Regions from separate parts of the Homo sapiens genome. Here region 2 is linked to region 1. Evidence: fine-mapped expression QTL. Tissue or cell type: cerebellar hemisphere. Region 1 holds a variant in brackets; the other region holds the start of a gene. All regions are shown on one strand. Distances are from middle to middle.

The links. PIP is the estimated chance that this variant, and not a neighbour inherited with it, causes the effect.
Region 2: TRPM3 starts here. The variant in region 1 is fine-mapped to the expression of TRPM3 in cerebellar hemisphere (GTEx, PIP above 0.99). The same link has a PIP of 0.9 or more in cerebellum.

Annotation. Positions count from the first base shown.
Region 1 is chr9:70,637,032-70,644,832 of GRCh38, reverse strand. It overlaps TRPM3 (transient receptor potential cation channel subfamily M member 3), which reads left to right. Exons shown (of 26, transcript NM_001366145.2): 10 at 4,173-4,273; 11 at 5,639-5,773. Among named protein-coding and RNA genes, the nearest start is that of MIR204, 170 kb to the left of the region's middle. The variant C/G (reference allele first, on the strand shown) is at 4,317.
Region 2 is chr9:71,117,621-71,125,421 of GRCh38, reverse strand. It overlaps TRPM3 (transient receptor potential cation channel subfamily M member 3), which reads left to right and starts at 3,801. Exons shown (of 26, transcript NM_001366145.2): 1 at 3,801-4,244. The coding sequence starts at 4,068. RefSeq lists an enhancer at 4,156-4,993.

The DNA of each region.
Region 1 (7,801 bases):
GGAGATTTGAGGCTGAAACAATGGGGCTTTCTGAATATAAAATCATGTCATCTGCAAACAGAAACAATTTGACTTCCTCTCTTCCTGTTTGAATACCCCTTATTTCTTTCTCTTGCCTGATTTCCCTGGCCAGAACTTCCAGTACTATGTTGAATAGGAGTGGTGAGAGAGGGCATACTTGTCTTGTGCCAGTTTTCAAAGGGAATACTTCCAGCTTTTGCCCATTCAGTATGATATTGGCTGTGGGTTTGTCATAAATGGTTTTTATTATTTTGAGATACATTCCATCAATACCTAGTTTATTGAGAGTTTTTAGCATGAAGGGGTGTTGAATTTTATTGAAGGCCTTTTCTGCATCTATTGAGATAATCATGTGGTTTTTGTCGTTGGTTGTCCAATGACTCCATATTCAGCCCTCATTTCAGGAGGGCAGCCGGGCCAGCAGATTGCTCCAGCCAATTAGCAAAATACTTCTATTGTGGGGACATGCAAGGTCGGGTAGCCAGAATGGTTCTGCTACATTGATGTGTTTGTATAAGCATAGGTCCCACATACCCTAGGAGTGGCACTGCTCCTTCACAGCACTTCTACAATCTGAAAGTATGCTGTTCATGAGTTTATTTGCTTACTTCCGAGTACTTCCCCACCACCAGTAGGATGTAAGCTCTGTGAAGAGGTTGACCTTAGCTACCTTGTTTGTCATTGGACGTTCAATGACAAATCAGTTCCCAGCAGAGAGAGTATTCAATAAATATCTGTTGATGAGATAAATGAATTACTGCATGAAATAATGTATTTAATTACAGACTTCTCTTCTCCTCTAGACTGTAAGCTCTCAAGACAAAGTATTCTGCTTTATATGTCTCGGTCCTCATGCTGGCATACTGCCTCCCATATAAGGAGGCATGAAATCAGTATCTTTGAACGCATAAGTAAATGAACAGATGAATGAGTGAATGAATGAACATATGCTATCTACACTAGAAGTTCTTAATTTTATCCTCACATTAGAATCATTGGGGAACTTTTAAAAACCGCAATGCCCAGGACCAATTAAACTAGAATCTGTGGGGCTGTGCCCCAGGCATGAGTATATTTTAAAGCTCTTTAGGCAATTCCAAGTGCACAGCCATAGTCGAGAATAGGGTGACCAGCCACTAGGTTTATTCAGGATTGACACATCTCCCAGAGTGCAGGAATTTAAATGCTAACACTGTGACTACACTGGGCAAGCCTGGATGGCTGGTCACCTTAGCCGAGAACCACTGATCCAAACTGTCACCCACGGCCATTCTTGAGTGATGTATTTTCAATTTTTGAAAGTCAAGACTCATTGGTTTCATGCTTTCATTTGACACTTGCCTAATTACATTCAGGCCTGTAGCTCACCTTGACCTCAATAACTGCTTCCTGCTATGTGTTCCTGTTCAGGCTCGTGCTGCTATTATTGACTTGGGTGACATACTAATTTGCAACATACAAATGGCAAAGGGAATGATTAAACTATTCCAGCAAGTCAGCACCAACCAGTAGACCAGCTAAAGAAGCAAAGAAACATGTAAAGTGCTACCTTTCCAAATGCAATCGCAATGAGCCTTCACTTCTTTTCCTCTCCAAATTGATGACAGAACATTTTGACACATTTCTACTTATCACTTGTGTATGCCAGTTACCCTGGTATGAGTGTGCAGTCCCTGTTGTTACCTGAGGAGATAATTTTTAATGGAAAATTCCACGTGAGAGCTGAAATGATATTCATCATTGTAAACACTAATAAATTTACTCCAAGTATGTGGTCGATAATAAGCCCATCAATGTGTGGACACCAGAATCAGAAATGCTCTTCAACCTACGAAGGGAACAGAGCACCACAGCTCTTGAGGGCCTTGTTACTCAAATCATGGCCCCAGATCAGCAGCAGCGGCCTCACCTGGGAGCTGGTTAGAAACACAGAACCTTAGGCTCCACCCAAGAGCTACTGAATCACAAGGTCTGCAGCTGGGACCCAAGAACCTGTGTCTTAAAAAGTTCTCCGAATTGTACTTATGCATGCTAAAATTTGAGAAGTGTTCACTTAGCAAACATTTTTTGCCTAATTTATAACGTCAGTATCTCAGAGCCCAGAGGGAAGAGGCGAGGGTAAGCAGGAAAGGAGGCACACAGCGCAGTAATTCCCAGCCTCTGGACATTGGCTGCACATTGGAAGCACATGGAGAGCTTTAAAAATATCCGCGCCTGGATCCCATCCCAAGCAACATGATTTAATTGGTATGGGATGCACCCTGAGCGAAGCTCCCCAGGTGATTCTAATGTGCAGCAAAGTTTTGGAATCACTGATGTAAGTTAACGACCAGGAACCCTGCCCCACCTCCTCATTGTTTCTGGCCTTGACTGCTGGCGAACCCAGAGGAATGAACAGCATACACATTTGCTATATTTCTTTCCTAAACATCAGAAGCAGCAATGATGAAGAGGAATTCTCTGGATCTGACTCTCACCTCTAGTTTGCTGAATACTTCTTCCATTTACCCTGTTAGTAGCTGTTTTATCTTTGGCTGTTCCACCTCCCTGGATCTCAGTAGTCTCATATGTTTCAATGAGACAGGAGACAATAAGACCCAGTCCCCAGATTAACTGGGATGTTACATATGACATATGGAAGTGCCTAATACTTTGCCCAGCACATGTTTGATGTTTAAAAACTCTGAGCTGAGGAAGGTTGTCTCTTTATCCTCCTCCCCGATCGTGAGATATCCAGCAGCATGAAGCTTGGCAATTATTTAGGGGTGTCTCTTCCTCAGTGCACTAAGGGTGTTGGTGAACTGTGAAAAACCTGTTTAAACAGAAATCACTTATACAATCTCATTTCAGTCTCACACCCCAGCCATGTAAACTGGATATTTATTGCCTCCATTTCACAAATAATCAACAGTGGCTGAGAGGAGCCACAGGGACTCTCACTTGGGCCCCCTGCCTGGAGCCTAATGTTGCTTTCGTTACTGCACTGCCTCCATTTCCAGCTTCCCCTCCAGCTGCTTGGCAGGCTGCCTCTATGGACAGGATGCATTCACCTAGATGAGCTCTGGGCCAATAGCACTTACTGTGATGATAGAAATGTTCTGTATCTGTGCTTTCCAGTTCAGTAGTCACTAGCCACATGGAACTATTAAGTTCTTAAAATGTGGCTAGCCTGACTGAGGAATTATAACTTTAATTTTATTTAATTTTGATTAATTTAAACTTAGCCACCTGTGAACCGCACAGCTCTAGAGACAGAATCTGGAGAAAAATAAGAACCTGGGAAATAGTTCCAATGGTTTCTACCCACAAATCAAAGTAAACCTAAGCCGCTGGTTTGCCTCTCTGTTAAAAGACCTTCCTAACTCTTTTTCAGAAAAGTGGCAAGTTGGTACGCTAGTTGATGAGAGCACCCTCCCCATGCAAAATACTATTCAAGTGATGCCTTGAAACCAGTGATTGGCCAGCAGAAGCAAAATGTGTGGTAGAGCAGAGTTTCTCAAACTTGAGTGTGTGCACAAGTCATCTGGGATCTTGTGAAAATACGGATTCTGGTTTAGTGGGTCGGGGACAGGGTCTGAGACTTGCATTTCAAAGAAGCACCAGGGTGGCACTGCTGCAGCTGCTCTGTGAACCACACTTTGCCTAGCCAGACGGTAGAGCAATGCTGCTCACCAGGCCAGTTTTGCCTCCCTTCACACATGGGGGCATTTGGCAATGTCTGGAGACATTTTTGAGCATCATGTCTGGAAGGATGGGGGTGGGAAAATGCTATTGACATCTACTGGGTTCAGTCAAGGCGTGCTATTAATAATCTACAATGAACTTGTATGCATGCATCAAAATATCACATGCATACCATAAACATGTACAATTATTATATATCAAAAAAGCATGGAGTTTCAAAGACCTTCTTTTTAAAAAGTTTTTAAAAATGTAATAATAATAATAATCTACAATATACAGGAGAGCCCTGTGACAAAGAGTTACCCAAAATGTTAATAATACCAAGTTTGAGAAACCTGCTGTATAGCCAAGCAGGCTCTTTGGGAATAGGGGCATTAATGGCAGAGGGATGGAGCAGGCGCTCTTGGTGTAATAACTGATCGTCGTTTTCTCTCTTCCACTCTTTTCTCCCACTTGTCCTCACACAGGAGCCAATGCCTCGGCCCCAGACCAACTGAGCTTAGCTTTAGCCTGGAACAGAGTCGACATCGCTCGCAGCCAGATCTTTATTTACGGGCAACAGTGGCCGGTAGAGTATATATCGTCTCCCATGAAAAGCCCACTTTGGTTGG[C/G]CAAGGGTATTTGTTTAAGGAGCCTCTGAGGTCAGCTCAGAAAACGATTGCTTTTTCTTTAAGATGGAATGTGTTCCTTGGTAGCAAAGTCTGTATCCTGAGCTCCCTTTCTCATATTTAGGAAAGCACCGCCATCTAGTGGAAATTTCAACTGAACACAACTCCAAATATTTCCATCTCTATGAGTTGTCTTTAATAGCAATTTTCAGCTGCAAATGATGCCATTTATTTGAATACATCTGAAAAAATATAAGACAAATCTGTATTAACTAAAATTAAGGAAGGGGTAGAATTATTAATTTGCTTCTGATTGTCTTTGATGGGGCAAAGGGAAGGGTCACACCTCAGGATGCAGAATTAGCAGGCTTCCCTCTGCAGGCGCCATCTGGTCCTGGTGACTGAGCACAGGTCCTCCCTATTTGCAAAGAACAACATGAGGAAACCAATGCTTTATATAACTGTTCTTGGTTTGCTTCCCTCAATTGACTCTACCAAAAATAAAAATTTGAGAGATTGGCCATCAGGTGGGATATGTATGCATCCACAGGAGGCAGCCCAGCAGCCTGAAACTCGGTTTCTGTGCCTGGAATCACAGCACTCACCGGCAAGCCTTATCTTACTCCTTCCTTTCCCCTAGAGAGTTTCTGCCTGGGATGGAGCCCCTGTCTTCATTCAGTGCTGGTGGATTGCTAACATGGAAAGATTTGTCAGAGTCTAGACCCTGCAACATTTTTGTGAAATGGATTAAATAAAAATCTAAGCTATTGGCAAATCCAGAAAGTAGGCTGGTTGTTCTGTTTTGTTATGTTTTTGTTTTGTTTTCAGTTAAGTGACATCTTTGTGGTCTTGCTTCTACAGAGACCCAGCATTGATTTAGGGCCTTTGGTCTGTTGACTTGGGTCCCTCTTCTCAAGTTGGCCTGGGGTCTCCCTCAGAGCCTAAGGATAACAAAAATGAAGACAGCAAAAGTGCCCCCTTTGACACTTCGCTGGTGTTGAGAAATTTAATCAGATAATTGCAAGGGGAAAAACCTTGTGAACCCTTGCACCTTCTTGGGATCCAGAACAAGAGATTCAGGGAAGAAATAGTTTTTGGAACTAGAAATGCTTGACTTCTATTTGCAAAGACAGGCACCCAAACATGGGAGAGGTGTGGCTGTCCCAAAAGTGAATCTGTGAACAGTCTTGCTAGCATGTTCTTAGATGTGCTGAAGGTTTACCAGATGTCAAAGGCATCCATTTCTAAGCTGTTCAAGTGAACACTAAAGAACTGCATCCATAGATAGACCCTGGGGCAGACTAACTCAGTGACTTGGTTTGCAGGTGGGATCTCTGGAGCAAGCCATGTTGGATGCCTTAGTTCTGGACAGAGTGGATTTTGTGAAATTACTCATAGAGAATGGAGTAAGCATGCACCGTTTTCTCACCATCTCCAGACTAGAGGAATTGTACAATACGGTAGGGCCAAACTAAGGCACTTTTTATTTTCTTTTTTTTCTGTTTGTTTTACCTTCTCCTGCCCCCCATATGCCTGTGATTCTCTTCCCTTCTCCCGTCCAAATGCATGGTTCATTCATCACAAATACTCCCTTAGACCTACATAGATGACAAACACCAAGTCACCAAGATTCCGCTTGTTTTAATTGCTCAGTTGTCAGCATGTAAGGCAAAAAGTTATGTAATAACCTAAGTGTATCATTCTCATATTCTTATACAAAGCCACAAGGCTCTGGAAATGAGAACACAGTTTGTTCTGTAAGCCCAGAGGGTGTTAGAGGCAATTAGCAAAGGAGGGTTGGTTTAACTCTAAGCATCACAAAAGGCTGATTAAGTAACCTGCGCCATTTTTTATCCTCAGAGCTATGAAGTTCATTCTTCATAGTTCAGCTATAAAGTGGAAGAAAAGGTAAAATATCTCTTTTTTGAGTCACTCAAAAATTTTGGTTTTGTTTTGTTTTGTTTTTTAGCTTAGTAATGATTTGTTAATTTACTCACTAGGGATACCAAGGAGTAATCATAGGTAAAACTACTGTTTATGAAGTTATTGAGAGCATTCACATGAGTTAAGTGCATTGGCTCTGAGCTCATACTAAAATCCAGTGAAGTTTAAAGAGCAGAAATTTTTCCCCATTTACCAAATGAGGAAACTGAGGCTGTCTTAGTCCATTTGTACTATGATAATAAGATGCCTTAGACTCAGTAATTTATAAACAACAGAAATTTATTTCTCTGGGTTCTGGAGGCTGGAGAGTCTAAAATCAAGGCTCTGGCAAGTTCAGTGTCTGGCGAAGGTTGCTTTTTGCTTCCAAAATGGCACCTTGTTTTGCCATTCTCCAGAAGGGACAAATGCTGTGTCCTCACAAGGCAGAAGAGACAGAGGGCAAAAGGCCTGAATGTTGTGTGAAGCTTCTCTTATAATGGCCTTAATCCCCCTCACAAAGGAGGAACCCTCAGGACCTAATCACCTCCCAAAGGTCCCACTTCTTTTCTATTATTATTATTGTGATTATTATTATACTTTAAGTTCTGGGATACATTTGCAGAACGTGCAGGTTCATTACACAGGTATACACGTTAAAGGCCCCACTTCTTAATACTAGTACATTGGAAATTAACTTTCAACATGAATTCTGGAGAGGACACAAACATTCAAACCATAGCAGAGGCCAAGGTGAATTCAAGGTCACAAAACTCCTAAGAAAGCCAGTAAGTACCGAACCCAAGCTTCTGTCTCTAAGATTATTCTACCCCTCATTTTTCACAATGCCTCTGTCCCATCACGCAGAGGGCAAGCAGGATGGAGCTTATTTCCTGTCCCCAGCCAGTAGTAGTTGTTAGATGGTGCCACGCTGGCACCATCTGCAAAAAATAGAAACGGGTTAGCAGAATGTCTCCTAGTCTCTGTTTTCTCCAGAGACTTTTCTTGGTTCAGCATACTGAGACTTTCAGGAAGAATAATGGGTTTTCAATTAAAAAAAATAAATAAATAAAGACAAGCATTGAATGGTCTATCAATTAGAGAATCAAGGGAGTAATTTATTCCAAAGACTGGGGAGTGGGGGTGGGTAGGAAAATTCTAGACTGAGGAAGGCCAGTAAGTTTGATCACTTCAGTCTGCTGGTGGTGGCTTCCCGGAATACTTTGTTGAGGATTATGGAACAGTAAATAGCCTCAGTAATAATAATAGCTAACACTAATTGGCATTAAGCACCATTTTTAATAGCTTTATAAACATTATATCATTTAATCCTCACAACAACCCCATCAGATAAAGTGATACTGTCATTCCCATTTTAAAGATGATAAAACTGAGTCACAGTTAAGTTGCTTGCCCACGTTCAGAGCCAGTAAGCAGCAGAGGTGTAGAGCCAGGCACTCTGACTCCAGAGTCTGTAGGCTAAATCACTGCACAATCCAGCATCCCCTCAGTGGAAAAAGAGCTCTGATGGGCACGTCCACATGAATGGGCAGGTCGTTGCCGCATTT
Region 2 (7,801 bases), 480 kb before region 1:
GGAGCTAAACAATGAGAACACATGGACACAGGGAGGGTAACAACACATACGGGGGCCTGTTGCAGGAGGAGAGCATTAGGATAAATAGCTAATGCATGTGGGGCTTAATACCTAGGTGATGGGCTGACAGTGCAGAAAACCACCATGGCACACATTTACCTGTGTAACAAACCTGCACATCCTGCACGTGTATACTGGAACTTAAAGTAAAATAAAATATTTAAAAAAGAAAATTCAAAGCACAACAAAATTAATAAAAGAGGCCAATCATTAAGCAAGCAAGACGTTAATATTAAGACTACAAAACACTGAAGCAAACGAAAGTGTCTACAAAGGCTCACCACTGGGCTTGTTCCTGGTTTTTCCCCTGGTTGCTTAAATATCATCCTTCTGCACTAGGTGCACTACATCCATATATTAGAGCCTGAAAATATATGTACAATTGATGTCCAGATACCTATGAATTTTAATGTTGTAATAATAAACTCTGAAAAATTACATTGCAACACTGTTATTTTAGTGTTGTTTGCAGAAAACACATTTCAGAGGGAGGCTTTTGAGTTCTCTGTACTACCTGGTCACTGTGTCATTTCCTTTTTGTTTTCTTAGGTTTTCATGGGTCAGCTCCTTTTACATCCAAAAGATATAAAGAAGACAGGGTGCAAAGTGGTACAATACTATATTGAGGGTGCTATGACTTTTGAAGAGAAGGAACGTGGTCTTCAAAAGAAAGAATTCAGAAGGGCTATACAATGGCCGCCTTGTCAGTATTGAGAATGAGCTCAAATTTCATCATGATTCTTTGGTTTCGTATCATTTACACAGAAAATAAAAAGGGAAGATAATCAGTGGAAAGTGGGCTTTTCTGTAGCACGGGAGAGAATTAGAGTTGGCTCAAAGGCAGGCTTTGGAATACAGAAATCTGATATGCCCTGCTTGCTATTTTTTAGGATACTGAAAGCTAGTATGATTATTTCAGAGTTTTAAGCCTGCTAGAATTTGTTCTGCAGATATGTAGACATCTACATTCATAAGATTTATAAGTAAGCACTTTGAATTTGTGAGATGCTAATATCTGGGGCTGGGCTTGCTCCTCTCTGCTTTTTTTTTTTTTTCTCATTAGACCTCTCTCTAAAACTGGGGAAGGCATCTTCTATGTGAAAATATAATTTCTTGAAAGTAGAGAGAAGGGTCTTGAAAACCCTTCTTTAGATGTTTTGATAGCAAACAATTCTGGCACAAAGCGTCCCCAGTGATGGAAGAAAAACTGCCTCTCATGCACTGTCATCCTTCTTTGATCTTTTACCTCTTTTGCAGTGTAATCTCCAAATCAATTCCCTGAAGGTTTTGTGCTTTTCTCCTCTAATTGCCATTAGAGAGGGCTGTGAATCCTCCTACTTCCTCACTCTGCATAGTTTCTAACAGTTCTCTTTGACCAAAGTTATTCAGTAAAATTAAAGGGGATAGGATCAAAGGCCATGTGTTTTCAGAATGATGCTGTCATTTTTGTGGGGTCCTTAGCATTTTGAAATACTGCAGGGCAGGGGGTAGGCAATTGCAGTTTTTCAGCATTTTCATGGAGCAGAGATCTCACCACCTCAACAGAACCACTTAAGGGCGTTCATTTAAAAGCTTAGAAAGGCTGGAGCCTTCCCCACTAAAGGCAGCATCTCGCAACTGGATGAATACCACACTGCATGAGGAAAACCACGCTGCCCTTGCAGTCTCCCACCTTCCTCTTTACCCCATTTATTAAACTCATAGTAACTCACAAGAAGCATTCAGTTTTAATTTGTCTTGCTTGACTTCATTACCTACTACCATATGTATGCATGCTTAATGAAAATTGTCAGTGGGCTTCCAGCTCAGAATCAGCACATGCTACCCAGAAGATGGATCATGGTACAGGTATTTAGTATATGCCAGGCACTGTTCTAAGTGCTTTGCCAATATTAGCTTATTTAGTCCTCACAACAACCATAGGCATAAGGGTTTATTTTAATCTCCATTGTACGGATAAGGACTCCAAGACACAAAGAAGGTACGTAAATCTCCCAAGACTAGCTTCAAAATTGGAATTTGAACCATGCAGCTTGATTCCAGAATTCATGCTGTTAACTAATACATCAACATCAGACCAAAGTAATAATCTGAAAGAAATGCTGAGCGTTTCTTCTTTAAAGTCTTTAACTCTTATGTAAGATTAAATTACCAAAAAACAGAGGCAGTGGTTTTATTCCTGAAGTCCCTTTTGAAAGAAATAGGAGACAAGAGAAAGCTTGTCTTTACAGCCTAGTAGACTGGTTTCAATCCAGATTCCAGTTATACTAGTATGTTAGACTTGTTACTAATTTCTCTGGACCTCACTTGCTTAATCTGTGAGATAAGAAAATGACCATAACACCTACTCCATAAGGTTGACATGGGCATAAACCTATGCAATGCATTGTGCTAGGTGATACATGTGAGCCGTTATTATTTTAATACTGCCTTCAATCCTTTGTGGAAATAGAATAGTAACAGAAAATGAATCAGCTGTGTATGAGATCTATTAAAGTGATATTGTTTGGTAGATAATCAGAGACATAAATTTTACTATACGAGGTAGGTCAATGGTCTGCCTTCCACCCGTGGACTAGTTTTCTGCAATATCTTTCTTAAATTTTTGACACAAGACCATTGTGAGTGAAATGGTGTTGTAGCGCAGTGTGTCAGGTATTGATTTCATGCTGGGGTGGGCCTGTGTTGTCCCGGTTCTGAATTACAGCAGTGTATCACATCTGCTTGCACCACTCCCAGTTCAGCTCTGACTGCATAATAGTCATGGAGCTGGGATTTACCAATCTCTTCAAGTTAATTAGAAATGGAAAATCAGCATGGTCACAGAGGAAAAAATAAATAAGATGGCGATGCTCCAAGGATGTGGGGATTCTCCCCATAGGAGTTGTCAGGTCAACTGCTCCCACTGAGGTCCGATGCCTGGGGGTACATGGGAGCCGAAGGGGGGTTGTGTCAGGAACTCCCTTCTCATCTCACCGTCCCAACTTACTATGTGAAATTATCCAATTTCTACCTTCAAATTGAAAAACTGTCCTTTAATTCTCTCTCTCACCACAGGAGTCCTAAAGACTATACATTCCAACTCAGCAACTATTTCATACAGCCTCCTTAGAAAATGATGGGGGTGGACACCCCACTTGAGGAAAATCCATTCTTTATAGACAGCATCCCATGTGGCACTTTATGGGTTAAACTTGTGTTGCAGAGAAGCGGTATCAAGTGGCTTTCCAGGAGATAACCCCCATTTAAAAACTGCCATCTCTAAAAGGTGAGCCAAATGCCCATGAGTTTAAACTGCTTTGTATGAAAGGAACAACCCAGTGTGTTTGAGTTTGCTTCTGTCTCAGTGTCTGTCATCTATGCAACCGATTATCAGGATGAAGACTGTCAATCACGGTTAATAAAAACCTCAGAACACGACACAGATCTCTTTTACTATAGATGTATTTGATGATAGCCTCACTTTATTATGTCACATAAATCAAAAGGGAAGCATTTATCTCATCATTCGGAGGCACCCCTTCTCTCCCTGTGTCCTCACCCCTCCCCCCGTACCAGTTCTCAGTCCCTCAAAGATGCTTTGTGCAAGAAAGTGCAAGTTTCCCGTTCTGGCTTCATTTTTGTTCCCTTTTGCGATCCTCCTGGCTCCCCCCCAAACCAAGCTAGCAAAGCAATGGCCCCGGTTCCCCCCCAACGCCTGACCTGCGTTTACTGGGAGGAGAGCGGGAGAGGGAGCGCGCATTCTGGAGCAGGCTGCTTTGACTCCGACCACAGGCTGTTTTGTGCAGGCTGTCCCTCTTCTTCAAAATCGTGCATCCCCTCCCCGAAGCAGCAGGCAGTGTGCCTCCATTCAGCCACATTTGGTATGCATGAGCACGGCTGCAGAGAGAGGGGAGGTGGCTGTTTTAAGAAGGTTCAGGGGCTCAGGCAAGGCTACTTGACTAGTCTTCCAAGTTCCAGGAAGCCTCTGCCCTAATGGAATTTGCAGGTGTGGAGATGACCATGGGATGCCAGAGCCGTGGGGGACCGTTTATTTTCTAGGCATTGCTCAGGTTTTCAGTTTCTTGTTTTCCTGGTGGAATTTGGAAGGGGTCATGAATCAGGCTGATGCTCCTCGACCCCTAAACTGGACCATCCGGAAGCTGTGCCACGCAGCCTTTCTTCCATCTGTCAGACTTCTGAAGGTACTGTAACTTGCAGCTTTGAATGGCGCTAATTGTGCTTTTTAGATTTAAATACCCAACTTGGGGACTTGGGCTGGGACGCACCTTTGGGGGAGCCTAAATGCATGCAGTACTGGCTCTGTGGTCCGTGGCTGGAGAGAGGTTCTCAGTACTCCTGCCCTCCCCCCACGCCCCCCACCCACACCCCGTGGTGTCAGAGACAAGAGGCTGGTGCGAACCACACTCGAGAAGGAGATTTTGGTCTCAGAGAATGGGCTACCTGGTGCTCCCCCACCCCTTTTAACCATTCCTAAAACAGAATTAATTAACTTCTTTGGGAGGGTGGGAATAGTAGTGGGAGTGAAATCTCTTACTCCCTTGTGTTTGGCTCCTGGGCTTTTCTTTCTCTCTCCCTGGGGAAGCCCTTCGACCCACTTTCCCTTTAAATGGAACCAGAGAGAACAAAGGATTCTCCTCATTAGTTTAAAAGCTTTGTGTAGTTAGGTGGCCAGTCAGGTGAAGATGAACAAAGAATGAGCCTCCTCAGACAGTGACTTTTTTTGTGTCCTTGTTTTTAGAAAAGGCATAAAAATGTGAGTCTCCTGAGTGGAATCAGTAGTGGGAAAGTATTGTTAAACATATATTGAATGTCAGCTCTCTCTCTAGCTGTGAGTCACACAAAAGAATGGCACTACACCTGAGCAGGAATTGCCACCGTGTGTCTGCAGCGCTTCTCTTTCCAGAAGCAAATGCATTAAAGATACTGAAAAAGTCCATACAACTCTGTACTAATCCACCTTCATGATCTTTCTTGTAGGGGGGAAAACACAAATTAGATTTAAAGGTGCAGGAAACAAGCATTTTTGCCCAGTAAATAGAAGGTGGTAATACTTAATAGGGAAAAATAAATATCTCTGATGTTCTATATCCATTCGAAGTTAAAAAAGGCAAAGTTCTTAATTCTCTTTTCCTGAGTATGTATGCTCTTTTGATTTAGTGACCACAGAGCATTGAGTCCAGTGGGCTACAATGGAGAATTAATGAATTAGCCCTGAATACGTTACACTTGGAGAATTTTGTTCTGAGGATGTGTTCTGGTTAGGTAAGATTTGATGGGGACAGTTAGTTCCATACAGCTAAGTGGTGCCTCACAACAGAGTATTACCCCTTGCCTGAGTTTTCCTTTTCTTGTTAAACACCAACTGGTATTAACTTTCAACAAAGGCTGCCCCAAGTGCTGTTCAAACTCCCATCATATGGTTGTCATGGCGATGGCTTGCTTCCCTAGGGACTATTTAGGAGGAAAGGCAGGTTTGGGTATGGGTAGTAGAAGAGACTTTTCCTTGGATATGTGTGTTTTTGCTGTGTTGTAACAACATGTGTGATAGGGCAAGAAAAAGAATGAGGCCAGAGAATTAACAAATTGGTGTACATTTTCTCCAGAATCACTAGTGAATCAAGAGTCAGGGGCAAAGAATGGGCATATCTAAGTCTCCCTGAAAGAATTCAACTCCAGTAATTCGAAGTGCAATGAGAAACATTTTTTCAGTTAAAGTCATGTATCAGCTTTAACCCAAAATAATGCTTTTTAACTCTTCTTGACAGATAGGTGACTATCACTCTCCATATATGATTAATTAATATGCTAGTTTTTTTTTAAATGGAGAATGTTATTCATTTACTAGTCACAAAACCAGCAGAGAAGTACCTACCTGAGGTACTTCTTTTAGAAGAAGCTCTGTCTTTTTAGGAGAGTGAGTTCTGTCATCTTTTTTAACTGAAAGTGCTGTCCATACTTTCAGGAGACATTGTTAATGCTACAGCCATACTTTCATTGGCATACAGCTCAATCTTACCATCCTTTATTAAAGTGATGCTTTGTAATAATTTATTGAATAAAGTGCATTACTGTGTGTCCTTCCCATTTTTTCAATATCTAAAAGACAGGATGGAACCTTACTGGAGAACTTTTTTCCCAAATGACATCTGTATTTTTGAAAGATCATAGCTATCTTCTGAGACTTCAGATATTGAGCACATTTCAAACTCTTAAAAAAATAAAGTCATACCAAGTTCTTTCAGCAATACTTAGAAAGAAAGCAAAGCTGCTTTGGTATATGAGCAATTGTATTGTCCACTCTCTGGCTGTGAATGCTATGTATTTTTTTCCTATGGATTGTTGTATGTTTCTCCTATGGATTCCTGTGTTTGCTTTGCTAGTTCCTATGTATTCTTGCCATTTTATCTTTTGAGTAAAATGTAAGTTCATGAATAATAATTTGCATGTTTTGGTAAATGCTCTTCCTGGCTTAATCTAGAAATGAAATATTTAATAACAGTATTTCTTATGTCCTTTCCTTTCTTTCTCCTCCCTCCCTTCCTCCCCCTTCTCTCTCTTGTTCCACCTCCCTCCATACTACCACCACTATGTTAATTTGATGAATGGATTCTCTAGGAATCCAGTAGATTATTGAAATCTTAAGGTAACAAAGCCAATTCTCCTATTCAACAGGTAGTGCTTATTCCTCTTCCAAGCATTGTTCTAATATGACCTGCCCTCTCTCAGTGCCCCTACCTGTCAGTAAATGCAGTGTAGGTCCTGATGGCTTGATTAGATTTAGCTAAACTCTGATCAGTCACCATTTCTGACAGACTGGACTCAAGCCAATTTCCCTTTCTATCCTTTTCCTTGAAAATGTGTGTATCTTTGCTAACTTCCTTTGGTATCACGTTAATATTTAGAAATGGCTTCATAATCCTATTTCCTTATTTTCCATTTCCTAATAGAAACAGGATACAAAAGAATTAGAAGGGGAAGGCCGATATCTGAAGTATGAATTAAACCCAATGAGTGTTGGAATGTACTTATTATTCCTCCTGAAAGCATCTCATTTGTTGTTTTGTCCATCTCAGAGCAATTTTTGAACATGCCAACACACTCACATTTTGAATTTGGGGTTGCATTTGGAAATAAAACTTGGAAATGAATTTCTGGACAGGCACACAATGATGATAGCCAAAAGACAGAGCCTGTTTTCAAATGGGTAAATTTCAAATGGGACCCTTTCTACATCATTTCTCTTCTGTTGTCGTTTGCTTTATTCTTATGTGTTTCAAGATTGCATCTTACTATTAATCACAAAAAAAGTCAAGTTTATTTCAGTGACAGAATGTTCTTAGCATATTTCATATTCATTATCAGGTCTATCTTTGCCATTGTTTTATTTGGAAGATTTTATTTTGGTAACATGTTGAATTCGAAGATTATTTTTAGGGCAGAGAGCTTTCTGTGTATTGAAGTCTTGGCGAACTTACTGAAGGGAAGGCTTCTGAAAAATGGGTTGCATTGGGAGAAGGGGACACTGTATTTGTGACAGATTTTGGAAAGATATTTAAGTCAGTGTGTTAATGAAGACCAAATGATTAGTATCATTTTTAAGACTTTCAAATTTTTATATTGAGAAATCATATGAGTTTGCTCACTTTAAGCAATGTCAGAAATAGAATAAAGAAATTATATTCTGGAAAAGTCAGCCTGGACACTGGGTCCTAATTCCACTGTGTTCCTAACCAGCTGT